Regions from separate parts of the Homo sapiens genome. Here region 2 is linked to region 1. The links come from fine-mapping of genetic effects on gene expression. Tissue or cell type: subcutaneous fat. Region 1 holds a variant in brackets; the other region holds the start of a gene. All regions are shown on one strand. Distances are from middle to middle.

Region 1 (8,103 bases):
CTGGCTTAGCCTCAGGGCCCATCCCTGAGCAGGGAGGCAAGGCCTTAGCATCTCAGGGGGGACAGAATTGCACTCTGGTGTCAGAGTTTTGGATTCAATCCCCGTTCTGCCCTGGTTACCTGTGGGACCTTGGGCACTTCACCTCTCTGGCCTCAGTCTCTTCTTCTGTAGCCTACTCAAGGACAGCCCTTCATTTGAGCCTTACATGCCAGCCCCTCACACCCACTCCAGGGTTTTTTCCTCTCTCCCTCCTGCATTGAATTCTTCCTCCTGCATTGAATTCTTCCTCCATCCTGGATCACCCTCCACAGCATACAAACCTGTTCTAATTGTGCCCATCTTAAAACTGGGGAATAACCAGAAAACCTTCCTCAGGTCAGCTCCCCTGACACACCGATCTTTCCCTGTGCCCTTTATAGGAAAATTCCTTGAAGAGTTGCCAGGTGGCATCTGGGAAGCAGGCGGCCTCCATTTCCTCGCCTCCTGTTCCCTCTCGAACCTACTTCAGGAGGATTTTGTCCCCACGATTCCACAAAAACACTCTCGTCAGGGTCACCAGTGGTCCATGTTGCTAAATCCACTGTCATTTCGCCGGCTTCATCTCCCTGGCTCTGATCACCAGTTGGTTGCCCCTGCAGCCCCCGCCTACTCCTGTCATGGGGACTCTACATTCCTGGTTTTCCTCTGGCCTGCTGGCTGACAGATCACCCCATCCTCTGTTGATTCCACCTCACCTGCTGGCTTCTAACGCCGAGGTCCCAGGGCTCCGTGGGCTTCTCTGCTGTCTGCACTCACATCCCCGGGGATCACAAATGCAAATACAGCTTATGCATGGGAGGATACGAGCCCAGACCTTCCCTCTGACCTACAAGCCTACTGAGATCTCCACTTCCATGACTAATGGGCACCTAACATCCAATGCCTCCACAGCCATCATCTCGGTGTTTCCCATCTCAACAAATGGAAAGAAATAGCCCCCACTTTCAGCCGCTCAGTCCAACACCTGGAGTGACTCTTGGCAACTTTCTTCCTCTGATGTCCCCTCCTGTCCCTCAGCATAGTAGACATCTGCACTTTGGGAGGCCGAGTTGGGCGGATCATGAGGTCAGGAGTTCGAGACCAGCCTGACCAACATGGTGAAACCCCGACTGTACTAAAAATACAAAAAAAAATTAGCCGGGGGTGGTGGCACACACCTGTAATCCCAGCTACTCAGGAGGCTGAGGCAGGAGAATCGCTTGAACCTGGGAGGCGGAAGTTGCAGTGAGCTGAGATTGTGCCACTGCACTCCAGCCCGGGTAACAGAGCAAGACTTTATCTCAAAAAAAAAAAAAAAAAAAAAAAAAAAAAAAATCCATTCTATTCCATTCTAATGGGCATTTCACATCAGAATGTGTCCCTAATCTGCTGACATCTCTCTTTTCCTCCCCTCCTCCTTCCAGAGCCTCCCTGCTTGTAGCTTTTCTGTCCCAAGGACCTCCTCACTACCCCAAGGTGCTCCATTGCACTCAAGGCAAATGCGCAGGTCCCTGCCCTGATCCACAGGGCCCTCCATGCTCACCTCCTGGGACCTCTGACTCATCCTCTGTTTCTCTCCCGCTCGCTCACTCTGTTCCCTCCCTATCGTCACACTGATCCCCTGGCTGCTCTTCAAACACCCCTGGAGGGCACACCCCACCTTACAGGCTCTGCAGGGGCTGTCCCTCCACTGGGCACTTCACTCCGTGTCACACAGCTCCCCGGCCTGCCATCTTCCTCCAGACCTGGGCTCCAGTCTCACTGCCTCCCGACTGCAAATTCCACCCCAACCTCGACACTCAGTAGACCCCTGCCTAGCTGGATCTCCCTCTGTGATGCATAGTTATTGCTTTTATTGCTGGTTTCCACCCTAGAATGTCAGCTCCATGAGTGCAGGGATTGTGCGTGTTGTTTCTTTTAATCATCACACCAAGAACACAGGGAGTGCTCAATAGCTGGTAAAGAACCATCAGTGAGCATGGACAAGCTGCCTCGTAGGGTTTTGGCTTAAATGATAGAGCTCAGATAAGGCGCTCAGCCTGGGGCACGTGGATGCCACATGGTAGAAGTCGGCAGTTATGTGATTGTCACTGCTGCCATTGTCATCATTTCCTTTTTCACAGATGGAGAAAGCAGGGCTCAGAGACCCAAGGCCTGGCTCAAGGTCACAGAGCATGGCCAGAGCCAATCAGACCCACCTGGACCAACTCCCTCTCCCCACTGACAGGTGGGCCACCCCTCTCCTCTAAGACCCTGTATTAGTCTGTTCTCACACAGCTATAAAGAACGATCTGAGACTGAGTAATTTATGAAGAAAAGAGGTACACCAACATGGCACATGTATACATATGTAACAAACCTGCACATTGTGCACATGTACCCTAGAACTTAAAGCATAATAAAATATATATATTATATATATATATAAAAGAAAAGAGGTTTAATTGACTCACAGTTCCACAGGCTTAACAGGACGCATGACTGGGAGGCCTCAGGAAACTTACAGTCATGGCAGAAGAAGAAAGGGAAGCAAGGACCTTCTTCCCATGGTGGCAGGCAGGAGAGAGAGAGAGTGAGGGGGGAAGTGCCACACACTTTTAAACCACCAGATCTCGTGAGAATTCACTCACTATCACGAGAACAGCATGGGGGAAATCTGCCCCCATGATCCAATCACCTCCCACCAGGTCCCACCGCCCCAACACTGGGAATTACGATTTGACATGAGATTTGGGTAGGGGCACAGAGCCAAACCATATCAGACCCCAAAACCTCAAGGCGAGATTTGAAAAGTACTAGAGCTGGGATGGAGCCCAAATATAATCTGTCTTGAGGTTTTAAGCTCTTTTTTGATGTTCACATTCCCTGGACAAAAAGCAGGTGGTAACAGCCCAACACATTAAACAGGTAAAGAGGAAAGGAGCTATTCTAGCTGAACTCTGTAAGGGTCTGTCCTGGGTCCTGGCCCACCCCAGACTTCTGTGGACCCCCAGGGCTTTGAAACCCAGACAGAAATTCCTTTCCTCTCTCCATTCTACAGAGGAGGAAACTGAACCAAGAGAGGATAAGACCCTTTCCCAGGGTACAGGGGGGAGGGTGGATCCCTGGGGGCCCCTGGGAGCCCCTCCTCCTGGCTCCCCATCCTCAGACCTCCATTTGCATAAGTTCCACATTCCTGCTCCTCCAGGCGCCTCACTTCAGCCAGCCCACTTAATTGAAGCCAATTATTTAGCACAAGAGAACAGAGAATGCATCAGCTCATGTCTTTGTCCCCCAAACAGGGCCCTGAACAAGGAGCTCCAGCTGCCTTTGTCTCCCAGAGATGCTTATTAGAGATCAGCTGAGCTCAGCCTGTGGGGGTGACACTGGGCATGCCAGGGGCACAATGGTGTGTCCAAGGCAATTTGTGAAGGACTTCTGGGGCAGGGGCCTGGCTGCAGGCACAGAGTTCTTGACATGGGATAGACAGCTTCTGGAAAGTCGGTAGGCCAGGGATGTAGGAGTCAGAGTGACTGGGAACCTCAGGACAGTCATTCTCCCTGGAAGCCCCAGTGTCCTGACCAGTAAGTTGTTGACAACAGTGGATACGTAGATACCTGTAGAATACTTAGCACGGTACCTGGAATGCAGTACCTGCTAATTGTTAGCTATTATTACCATATTCACTTGTGATGATTATTTGGTTATTATCATTAATGTACAGTGCTCTTAGCTGTGGGGCGAGGAAGATACTATGGGTAAAATCACAGACTTTGGCTTCGGATACAACCGGGCTGGTGTCCTGTTATTGCCGTTTATCATAAACATCACACCTCTCCTCCAGTTTGGAGGTGATTCCCTACCTCAATCCTATGAAGGAAAGGAAGTTACTGATATTGATGCAGGTAGAGGAAATCAGGGTAGTCTTTATGGAGGAAGTAGTATCAAAACCTGGAAGGATGGGTTCAATTTTAATAGTCAGAAATAGGGGAAGGGAAAAGCAGGGGAACAGCATGCAAAAAGCACAGAGGATGAAACTGCTGGCACAATCAGAGGCTGGCACGTGGTCCCTCTGGTGAGGTGGGGATGGAGTGAAGGGAGTCATTCAAAACTAGGAGGCCCTAACAAGCCTGGGCCCCTGAAGCCTTAAGTAGAACCACCTTCAAAGAGACCTCTCCAGCTCCCTTCTTCCTCAGTGTCAGCTGTGACAGCAGCACGTCCATGGGTGCTGGGCCCACTTCTGTATCAGGACCTTAACAGCTGCCTGAAACCCTGACTTGTTGAGACAAAGCCCTCCCTTAATCTAGGCTGGGATTTCTCCACTGCATACTATTGACATTTTCAGCAGGACAATTCTTTGCTGTGGAGGGTCTGTCCCGTGCATTTTAGGATGTTCAGCAGCATCTTTGACCTCTACCCACCAGATGCCAGTGGCACCCTTTTTCAGCTGTGAGGACCAAAAATGTCTCTAGATATTACCAAATGTCCCTGGGGGTGGGGGCACAGGAGAATCACTCCAGTTGGGAACCACTGCTCTAGGGCCTCCCTCCCTGGGCCCGGGCTCAGACCTCCTGGATCCTGAACGCAGGAATAGCATCCTCATACACTCTTAGGGAGCAGCCCTCTTCCCCACTTCCAGTTGCTGCTGGGTGATGGGGCCTCCCCAGAGAACAGGCAGCAACCTTTTCTAGGGCTGACATCATCATCTGCTATGAAATAGACCATAATTGCCTAATTGTAGCGTGCCCTTCCAAGATAGATATACCTCTCTCACCCAAGCACCCACCCTTGCCCTCAGCCATAACATGCAGGGTAAACACACACCACTCTGGGACCTGGGGCATGAATTTTGGTAATGATGATCAATCTCAGTGATTTTCCAGAAGGTTAGCAGGCCTGGGGCAGAGAGGTAACTTGGCTGTTAAACTCTGATAAATCATCCTCATCACTCCACAGGGAGAACAAAGCTTGTTTTTTCTTTGTTGTCACAGTTTTTATCATAAAGGCAGCACTATTACAGAAAGTTTAGGAAGTAGAGAAA[G/A]CAGGATCACCCATCATGCCTCTGGGACTGATTCTATTTCTGCATACTCGGCAGGGCGTAGGCCAAGTCTTCCTGTAATTACAGACAAGGGTATAGGCAATGAGGATATTTTGTTTTCTTTCCTGTTTTTATTTCAAATTCCCTATAATACCAAAAACATCTCTTTGTGTTGCTACATGAACACGATCTTCCCAAGAATGTGGCATTTACCCAAAGTGCAGCTCAGGCCAACAAGGGGACCCTCTTCCTGGGTGGGGCCCTTGAGGGTCCGTGGCCTGGTAAACATAAGGATGTGGTGTTTACCCAAAAGCGGGTCTTGGAAGTGTGGTCAGGTCCTTGGGTGGACCCTGAAATCCTGCTATTTTGTAATTACAAAAATGTAGTGCTTACCAGAAGGGGTTTTCAGAGGACCAGAAGGGTGGTCAGTTCCCTTAGGGGAGCCCTTGAATTTCTGAGGTTTCAAGATTATAAGGATGTGCTATTTGGGATCACAAGGCCCTGTGGGTTCTAAATTTAAGAATGGTGCATTTTCCTGCAGGGAGGTGGTTGGTTTCTGAGGCAAGGCCAGAAGACCCTGGGGCTGGAAAGGCCTTGGCTATCAAGTATTTCTGATCAGATACACGCCTCCTGGGGGCCTGGAGAAGGCATGTGATGTGCAGCTCACAGGGATGATGCCAAGCCCGGTGGGAGTGGCACCTGCAGGAGGCACACGCAGCCTCGTGAAGGAGGATGAGTGGTGGCTCTCCTGACCTGGGCCACGCACACAGGCTCCTGCTTCCATGGGGCTGAAGGAGTGAAGTCCAACAGGCCACTCCAGCTGTGGGTTGCTCACACACTTAGCAACAAGTCTGTATGGAACCCTACTGTGTGAGATGCTGCTCCAGACCTCAAGACCCACAGGTGAATAAATCCAACACCGACTTGCCTTAAAGACGTTACAGTCCAATGGCAACACTCGTCAAGTAATGCCATGAAGGATTGTTCCATTGGAATCCATATGAACTAGGCAGGCAACTCATCAGGGGCTCTGATGAAGAGATGGAATGATTTAGGGGTAGTAAGGGGAGCTATATGAGCAGGCGGAATTTCAAACTGAGACCTGAAGGATGAGGAGATGAGAACCGCTGGTGCAAAGCCCAGAGGTGGGACAGGCTTGGTGTGCTGGAGAAAGGATGAAGGGACCAGCACGGCTGGAAGGAGCAAGTGAGGGGAGAGAACACGGGATTCTAGCCAAGAGGGCCACAGGGACAGGCCAAGGAGGGCCTTACAGGCCACTGGGAGCAGTTTGGACTCAGTCCCGAGAGGAACCGAAAAGAAGCAGAAGGTTTCATCTTTTAGAGAGAGGAATCTTGTGCCGGGCGCAGTGGCTCATGCCACCCCAGCACTTTGGGAGGCCAAAGTGCTCCCAAATAATCCCAGCATTTTGGGAGGCCGAGGCGGGTGGATCACCAGAGGTCAGGAGTTCGAGACCTGCCTGGCCAAGATGATGAAAACCTGTCTCTACTAAAAATACAAAAAGTAGCCGGGTGTGGTGGCACACGCCTGTAATCCCAGCTACTCGGGAGGTTGAGGCAAGAGAATTGCTTGAATCTGGGAGGCAGAGGAAGTTGCAGTGAGCCGAGATTATGCTACTGTACTCCAGCCTGGGCGACAAAGCAAGATCTTGGGAAAAAAAAAAAAAGAAAAGAAAGAGAGAGACAAAGAAAGAAAGAAAGGAGGGAGGGAGGGAGGGAGGGAGGAAGGAAGGAAAGAAAGAAAGAAGGAAAGAAAGAAAGAAAGAAATGAAAGAAAGAAAGAAAGAAAGGCAGAAAGAAAGAAAGAAAGAAAGAAAGAAAGAAAGAGAGAAAAGAAAGCAAGGAAGCAAGCAAGCAAGTCTCTGGCTGTGAAGAGGAAAGTGAGTGATGGGGTCAGGGGTCAATGGTGGAAAGGAGGAAGGAAGGCAGGCAACCCCTGGCTTCCTCCAAGTAAGAGAGGACAGTGGCTGGAGGAAGGATGGAGCAGTGGGCTGGGGAAGATATATCAATCCTCATTATTAGTAGGTTCCATATTTGCAAACTCACCTGCTCATCACATTTTATTTGTAACCCCAAAATCAATGCTCGTGGCACTTTCCTGGTCATTTGCAGACATGCAGACATGTCCAGGACGGTGAAAAATCTGTGAGCAACATGCACATTTCCAGATGAAGCCAAACAAGGTGACACTCTGCCTTCTTGGTTCAGTTTCGCATACTGTAAACAAGGGTTCTTTATGCTGTACAGTCACATGCCACTTAACAACAGGGATACAACGTTCTGAGAAACGTTAGGTGACTTCCTCGTTATGTGAATGCTATAGTGTGTACTTACACAAACCTAGATGGTACAGCCTACTACACACCTAGGCTATATGATATTGCCTGTTGCTCCCAGGCTGCAAACCTGTACAGCAGGTTACTGTTCTGAATACTGCAGGCAATTGGCATGCAATTGTAAGTATTTGTGTGTCTAAATATGGAAAAGGTACAGTAAAAATATGATCTAGGCCAGGGCAGTGGCTCATGTCTCTAATCCCAGCACTTTGGGAGGCCAAGGCGGGCGAAACACCTAAGGTCGGGAGTTCGAGACCAGCCTGACCAACATGGAGAAACCCGTCTCTACTAAAACTACAAAATTAGCTGGGTGTGGTGGCTCATGCCTATAATCCCAGCTACTCGGGAGGCTGAGGCAGGAGAATAGCTTGAACTGGGGAGGCTGAGGTTGTGGTGAGCCAAGATCACACCATTGCACTCCAGCCTGGGCAACAAGAGTGAAACTCCGTCTCAAAAAAAAAAAAGATATAAAAGATAAAAAGTGGTACACCTATGTAAGGCACTTACCATGAATGGAGCTTGCAGAACTGCAGGTTGCTCTGGGTGAATCAATGAGTGAATGTGAAGACCTAGGACATTACTCTACATTACTGTAGACTTTATAAACACTTTAGGCTAGACCAAATTTATACCAAAATATTTTTCTTTCTTCAATAATAAATTAAGCTTAGCTTACTATAACATTTTTACTCTATAAACTTTTTAATTTTGTTTA
Region 2 (8,103 bases), 110 kb before region 1:
GACTGAGTGTCTCCCCAATCCTGGGGTGCTGGCTTAGTGGTTAAAGGACTAGCTCATGACTTAAAAGGCTTGTGCTCCATCCTGGCTCTACCACTGATGAGCTGTATGCCTTTGGGCCAGTGACTCTGCCTCCCTGGGCCTCAGTTTCCTCATCTGTTAAATGGGGTGTAATAATGACACCAACCTCTCACCAGTGAGAAGATGCACCAAAAAAATCCAGAACAGCGCCTGTTTTGTAGTTAATGTTCAATAATAATGCTGCTCATTATTTTTAGACTAGAAGACTCTACTTCCTTGCCTCAGTTGCCCCCTTGACCAAATCTGCCTCAGAGCAGGTCCCCTTCTAGGGATCATGTGCCAGGTCAGAGTTGGGTGCTCAGAAGGGACTGGTCATAGGAAGGAAGTGGGATGAGAGAGAGCAAGGGTCACTTTGGGGCAGGAGGACGATGCTGCGCTGGCCCTGGGAGGGGTCCAGCCAGTGTAGCAGGATAAACAGTGAGACACAGGGTGCCGGGGAGGTATCGTGGACCAGGAGTCAGAACATCAGGCACCCCGCCCTGCAGCTGCCTCTCCTGGCCTGTGTGTCCTGGGGTGACTGACATACTGTCTCTGAGCCTCACTTCCCTCACCTGTGAAAGGGGAGGAATTCATCCCTTCTCAGTCACTCACTCTTCCTCAGCCCCTCACTCCCTGCTAGCTGCAGGGTAGGCACATTCCAGCCTCAGGGCCTTTGCATGGGCTGTGCTCTAGCTGTCTACACAGCTCACTCCCTCATCTCCCTCAAGGCTGTAGCTCAAAAGTTACCTCCTCAGGGAGACCTCCCTGACACCCTATTTAAAATGACAACCCGGTCCCTGGCCTCAATACCCCCAACACAACTTTTCCCCTTCACCTCTCAGTACACTATATAATTTGCTTATTGTTTTTATTAGGGAATTGCCTCCCCCTGCCCCCTGCTTTTAAGCATCAGCTCCATGAGGACAAAAATTTTTATTTTGTCCACAGCTGTCTCCCCAGTGCCTGAAACTGTCCCTGGCACTTTGCTCCATAAGCCATTTTTGGTGTAATGCTCACAAACATTTTGTTCAATAAGCAAAAGTAAAGAACAGCCCCAAACTGTGTGACTATGGGGCATTCCTGTTAAATCCAGCCCCCTCCTCCCCCATACCCCAAGAGGGGCAGGCCCTTCTTCCCACAGAGGTGGGGCTATCAAAAGAAATTGGGAGGCTGGGTGTGAGCTGGAGAAGCCACAAGGGGCCTGGAGGCAGAGCTGTGCAGAAAATAGGTCGCAGTCCTAGAACTGGCAGGTCATGACAGCTGGACATGGGTGAAGGGGCTTTCGGCCTTAGCCCTCCACTCCAAATTTGGAAGCACGGAGGAAGTTGACGACATGTGACTGGGAAAGAAGCGGCCATGGCAGGGGCCTCCTGGGATGGTGGGGACAGAGGGGGCCTCAGGAACAAGACGACCCATTTTACAGATGGGACAACAGAAGCCTGGAGAATAGTCTTATTTCCTAACAACCCAACAAGAAAAATCTTTTCTCTCCTTTCTCGAAGTCTGGGGCTGAGGCTAAGGAGCGGACAGTGCCCCCTCCTGGCTCTGCAACAAAACGACCCCCGCGTCCCTGGGATCTGCGGGCCGCAGATCCTGGTCCCCTCTCCACAGGCCGTCAGGGGTGGAGGTCCAAGGGACCACATAGTTGGGGTGGGCAGCCCCGGTGACTTCTCCCCGCAGGCCCGCCCCGTCAAGAAGTTTGTTTGAAAGAAACCAATCAGGAAGTGCAGGGTAGTGGGGCGGTGAGGGGGCCTTGGCCAGCCGCTCTGGGCTTTGGAGGAGCCTGGGGGTTCTTGGCCTCCGCGCTGCTCTTGCCCCAGCCTCCATCTCTCCGGCGGAGAAACCCACTCCCCCCGGGCTCCAGGAAGAGGCGGAAGCCCGAGACTGGGTCAGGGCGAAGGAAGGTAGAGCGAGGGGACCCAAGGCGAGCGCCCCGCCCCGCCCCGCCCAGCGGGGCGCGCCGGGGTGGGCGCGGCGTTCTGGCCCTTCCTCCACACAGCCTCCCCCGGGTAGGTGCGAGTGTTCTGCCCACGGCAGGGGCCCTAACCCACCCAGCGCCCGGCCAGTGGCCCCACACTGTACCCTTCCTGCAGATCGCGCGACTTTGGGGAGAGTGGGGGGCGTCTCCACCTGTGCGTCCCCTACCCACCCCCTAACTGGGCTAAGGCGCGGCCTGGGTTTCTGCCCGCCCCTTTCCAGCCTGGGGACGGGGGACTCTCTCAGCCTCGCCCCTCCCCCTGCAATCTGTCCCTGATGTCCCCGCTCCAGACACTCACCCACTTTCTGAGACCCAGGCCTCAGCGCCGGTGTCCCCCGGCGGTGAGCTCCGAGCCGTTAGGCGGCCCCGGGTTCTCCGGCCCAGGGCCCCTGCCCCCAGGCCCCCACCCCAGAAGGTCGGGCCAGACTTGTGGGCAGCGGGAACTCCGCCACCACCTCCGTCCGCGGCCCTGCGGGGGCAAAGACTGGGGGAACTCGCAAGTTTGCGCCGCGCACTCCTCCTGCCGGGAACAATGGCGGGAGGGGGAGGGGACAGAGAACCGAGCGCGGGGGACCGAGTCAGACCCCGGGGAGACAGAAACTGCTTTCGCTCCGTTTCTCTCCTGCTCTGAAGCAGAAAGCTCGAGCCCGAGAGGCAGTGGCCGAGGACGAAATAAGCAGTCCAGGAGGAGGGCGACCGCGGAGCCGGGGGAGAGGGGAAACCGAGTCAGAGGGAGGGGCGGCGAGGGGAGAGCGCGCAGGGGAGACGGAAGGGGCTGCGGGACGGCGCCTTGGGGAGCTGGGGAGGCGACCCCCTGGGGTCCCAGCGGGCTCAGCGGGTGCCGAGATGTCCCGGGGCGCCCGGTTAGCGCGCGCGGGGTCCCGGCCGCCCCTCTGCGGTCCCGTCGGCCGCAGGAGCCCCGCTGGGTTGCGCTGCGCAGGCGGCGGGCGGCGGGAGGGGAAAGTCCGCGGCTCGGAAGCGGCGGCGGGGAGCAGAACTTACGGGCCTCGCGCGTGCCGGCGCTGGGCTACGTGGAGCTGATGCCAGGCGGAGGCTCCGGGCTCGGACGCCTCACATCGCGCCGCCCGTGCCGGGCCGGGCAGTGCAGGGCAGGGCAGGGCAGGGCAGGGCAGGACAGGGCAGGGCAGGGCAGGGCCGGGCCGGCTGGACTGCGCGCGGCGCCCTGCGCGGCCGGGGCTTACCGAGTCTGGCGGCCCGCGCTGGTCCCTCCTCTCGGTTCCGCGCACAAGCCAATGGCGCGCCGTCCCCTCCCACGCGCCGGGCTGCCTCGCCCCCAGGGTGGCCGCCGGGGCGGGCGGGATGGGGGTTGGCGGGGAAACCAGGCTCCCGGCTCCCCCGCGAGGCTCTCCCGGGGGCCGCCTGCAGGGGGCGCACGCGCGCCCGAGAGAAGGCGCCGGGGGAGGAAGCCGCGCGGGGAGACCCTGGCGTGGCCCGCGCCGCCCAGGATGACTTTCCTGGCAAGTTCTGCAGACGGTGCCCCTTTCTTGGGACGATCAACGTAGATGGGCAAACCACACCATCTTAAATAGCCTTGCGGTGTCTCCCGGGCCCAGGCCGGTGCCTGAAATGGAAGGGACTGCTTTGGCTGGCGGTGATACCCAAGTGTGTAATAACACAGTCACGACAATAGTCACCGTTTGCTGCGCACTCTCTGATGCCAGACACCATATGCTAAAGGAGTTACAAGTATTAACTCATTTGATTTTCACAGCAACCCATAAGGGCGCTGTGCTTAGTCCCATTTTACAGGCCATGGTCGTTAAAGTTTGAGTTCACTCAGCCTTCAGGCTTCCAGCCTAGGCCCACCCTTCTCTCTCCCTGCTTGGTGTGACTTGGCCAAATAACATGACCCCACTGTCACTACGGCCACCTTCTTCATACTCCACCCTAAAATCCAGCCTCAGAGATGCTGCTGTCAGTTGCGCTGTCAGGAGGCTAGGATCTTATCTGGGGCTCTAGGACGCTTGTTGGCGCTACAGTTGTCAAACCTTTTGTCTCTACACATCCTATGGGGGGCTGGGGTGAGGATGAGGGTTGGGGGTCATGGAGGCTCTCTGGTGGCGTGTCAACCTGAGAGAACCAGGCTCCTACAGACAAGGCCCCACCCCCAAATTCTGGGCTCCTTCAACCCCTTATGGTGGGAAAATAATGTGCTCTCTCCCACCCCAACCCCCACCACCCTGTGCTCTCCTTAGAGAAATGCCTGGATCTCTTTCATCTGATCTGATGGTCACAGTGGGCCAGGAACCGGGGTGGGGGGCTGCGGGAAAAGGAAGGCAAGGCTGATGACATGCTCCATTTCACAAGTAAATAAGACAGAAAGAGGTGAGTGGCTGCCTCAGGCATCTAGCTAGGTGGGCATTCTGACTCCAGGTCTCGGTTCTGTCTGCACCAGTTCCTTAACGGTTAATAGAGCAGGCTCTGGAACCAGATCACCTAGGTTCAAATCCTGACTCTGCCTTTTAGTGCCTGTGTGGCCTTGGACAAAGTAAGTCACCTAGAGCAACCAATAGTAAGAACCGGCTATGGTTGCTGTAGAGATTTAGAGTTAATAGGAGCTGCTCATGTTTACTGTGCATGGACTCTGTGCCATGCAGGCTCCCACTGTCCTCACCAGAGCTGGGATTGGGCAGGAGAGTCTGTGCCCTTGGCAAGGAAGTAAACAGAACAGTCCTTGGTTCATAGTAAGTGCTCAGTGAATATAAACTGTCCTGATTACTAAGGTAGATAAACTCTGATGCCCCAGTGCCACTGACACTGCCCCCAGCCAAACACCTAGACAGTGATAGCCAATAATGAATGAATCAATCAATCAATCAAAGTATGTGACTCTAGATGAGGATTATTTTTAAGGTGTGTTGGGTGGAGCCATCTGACTCAAGGCTCTATAGTAATTTCTGCAACAACTCAGTCTCACCTCACTGCCTTTACAGAGCTGGGCCAAGCTGGGTTGATGAATTCATTTGTCACTCCCTCTTCTGCCTTTCTGGCACTCAGGGCTCTGGATTGCTGAAGGGAGGGCCCCCAGCGTCATTCATGTGCAATGTCCTCCCAGACTTGGGGACACCTGCCAGTGCTCTGCTTGGTGTAACCCTAAAGACTAGCAGCAGGGTCTGTGCTTGTAATCCCAGCCAGCCTGATCATACATCAGTGGGAGGCCTTTGTCACAATCACTCCAAGTTTTCCAACATGGAAGAGGCTGCCTTAGTTGTCATGAATGAGTGCCCTGTCACTAGCAGCATGCAAGCAGAATCCAGGGAAGGGTTGATGAGGACAGCAGAGGAAGAATTCCCACCTTAAGTGGTATTTGGAGTGGATAACCTTTGCCCTCTGGGTGTCTGTATTCTCTCAGTCTCCTTATCAACGGGGAAGCTGGGGAGGCTGGGAGCTCAGGCTGGGCCAAGGCTGCCCCACCATCCTTTGTGAACGAGGCCATCCTGACAGTGCCTCACCCTTATGCCAGGCAAGGTGCTATGTGCTGGGGCCCCAGGGGTGAACAGGACAGTGTCCCTGTCCTTGGAGAGTTCACAGCCCCCTTGTAGATGACTGCACAGATAGTCAACAGCAGCAACAGTAACCGCTCAAGATAACAGGCAAAGTGCTTGGAGGGGGACCAGGGGAGAAGCAGCTGGCTCTATCCATAACCCCCTGCATCCGCTCTCCAGAAAGCACCCATTAGAGGCTCTTATTGTCTTCCTCCCTATATACTTTTCATTTATTTATTTACTTATTTATTTATTTTGAGATGGAGTCTCGTTCTGTCGCCCAGGCTGGAGTGCAGTGGCGTGATCTCGGCTCACTGCAAGCTCCGCCTCCTGGGTCCATGCCATTCTCCTGCCTCAGCCTCCCGAGTAGCTGGGACTACAGGCACCCACGACCACACCCGGCTAATTTTTTGTATTTTTAGTAGAGTCGGGGTTTCACCATGTTAGTCAGGATAGTCTCGATCTCCTGACCTCATGATCCGCCCGCCTCGGCCTCCCAAAGTGCGGGGATTACAGGCGTGAGCCACCGCGCCCGGCCCCTATATACTTTTCTAAAGTGATGTGTCCAGTTCAGAAACATCCCTTAGGCAGCCATTCTGCCCTCAACTCTTCTGAGTTACCTGATCTTTACACTGGGCATAAAAAAAAAACTCACCTCACTGGGCTGCTGTGAGGAGTAACATTGACATTCATTAAGTGTGCCCCTAACGACAGGCAAGAATAGATGCTTGGTGCACGGTAACAATGAGGAGTCATCATTATTCTAGGTGAGAGTGAGATAAGTCGGCTAGGACCTTGGCTCTGCTCCTAAGTAGCTATACGACCCTCGCCTGCACGGATATAAAAATATCTGCCTCATAGAACTTGTGAGAGTCAAGTGAGGTGATTCGATGAAAAAGGTTTGCAAACTGGAAATGCTGATTCCTATTATTGACATTATTATTGTGATTCTTACCTTGGTGAAGTGTTCCTCTCAAGGCCCCAGGGGGGTGGGGATGGGAGTGGGGTTGGGGATGGAGCCAGGAAGCAGCCAGCGGCTGTTGCAGGGGTGGGAGGGTCACTCCTCCAGACTCCCACAGGAACCTGGGAGCAGCAGGGGCTCCATCTGCCCTGGTCGCCCTCCACAAGCAGGGGCAGCAACACCTCCTTGGTGGCCAGGTGTGAGTGAGCACTTAAGAGTGCGCCTGTGTGTCTGTGTTTGTGCCCCTGCAGGAAGGTGTGGTGGGCACAGGGATTGCCAGTGTCTGCAGCCAGAAACCACTATGGACGAGGAAGAATGGGGATGTAATTGGATTTCAAAGATGCTTGGAGTGAGACTACTGTTATCACCTGGGACTGCAGGAGAGAGGCCTGCGGAGCGGGGGTTGGGCCTAGTCTTTGGGGTTGGGGCCAGGGGAAAGGTTTCAGCACTGATGGGCACGTGTGGAGGAACATGATGTTGTCAGAGACCTGTTGTGGTTGAGCCCAGGGATTTTGGACCTGACAGATCTGGGTTCAAGTCCTGGTTATGGGACCATGGGCCAGTGATTTCACTTCTCTAGGCCTCAGTTTGCTCATCTGTAAAATGGTGATAATAACAGGGCCTACCTGGTGGGAGTTATTGGAGGTTTAGCAGAGAGGCTGCACGTGAAGCCCTTAACATGGGGCAGGCACATCGACAGTTATCAATCAGTGCCACTGGTGTTATTATGCGGCAGCCTGGGAGGAGCGGAGGGAGAGGGCCTCAGGAGTGCTGGTGCATTCTCAACTGGAACAGGGAGCTCTGGGGTGAGAGTTGTCTAGCCAGGGTTCATTGAAGCTGGCACAAAACCCAGAGAGAAGGAGCCGCCATCCCACAACACAAGGACTGAGGCAGAGAGCTGGGCTTTCACAACTGCTTCTGGTTCCCCTTCCTGGTTTCCTCTCATTTCCTCCAGAGCTTCGTTCTCTGTGAACCTGCCTGGTGAGGAGAACTCTGTTACACATAGCTTTGGGGACTGGAAGGAGCAGCTGGGAGCTCAGGAACTCCCAGGCAGGCCTCCCCAGTGCTTCCTGCCCCCACCCCTCCAGAGTGAGCACTGACCAGCCCTCCTTCCCCGACCCCACACAACTGCCAGCTGCTTCCCTCCAGTGACTCATCCCCACCACCTCTGTTGCTACACCAGGACCAGGAAATGTCAAGCAGTTTCTTATCTGTGGGAGAGAGAACTGATCAGGATGGGGGTGGAAGAAATGAGGCTCAGATCTCCCCAAAGAAAGTGTATGACAGCTAGGGGACCAGAAGACCATGGCCAGCCCTTTCCTGCTTCCTGTGGGGGAGGGCTCAAGGAGGCAGTATGAGAGTGGGATTTAGCCACTAGAACCATCCTGGATTTAGGTTCAAGGTCCTAGTCCTCTTCTAACCGGCTCTGTGGCCTTAGGCAAGTAACTCAGTGTCTCTGAGCCTCAGCGTGTTCATCTGCCAAATGGAAAGAAGAAAATCATGATGATGCATAGGGTACCTGGGGGGTTAAGTGAGATAGTACATGTGAGTCCGGAGCTCACAGTCAGTTCTCAATGAATGTTCATTGACTCAATTAATGA

What was found. PIP is the estimated chance that this variant, and not a neighbour inherited with it, causes the effect.
Region 2: it holds the start of TP53I11, and the variant in region 1 is fine-mapped to the expression of TP53I11 in subcutaneous fat (TwinsUK, PIP 0.95).

Annotation. Positions count from the first base shown.
Region 1 is chr11:45,053,464-45,061,566 of GRCh38, forward strand. No RefSeq gene overlaps it. Among named protein-coding and RNA genes, the nearest start is that of LINC02685, 84 kb to the left of the region's middle. The variant G/A (reference allele first, on the strand shown) is at 5,039.
Region 2 is chr11:44,947,640-44,955,742 of GRCh38, forward strand. TP53I11 (tumor protein p53 inducible protein 11) reads right to left here and starts at 3,244. Exons shown (of 7, transcript NM_006034.5): 1 at 3,038-3,244. RefSeq lists silencers at 3,014-3,143, 3,174-3,433.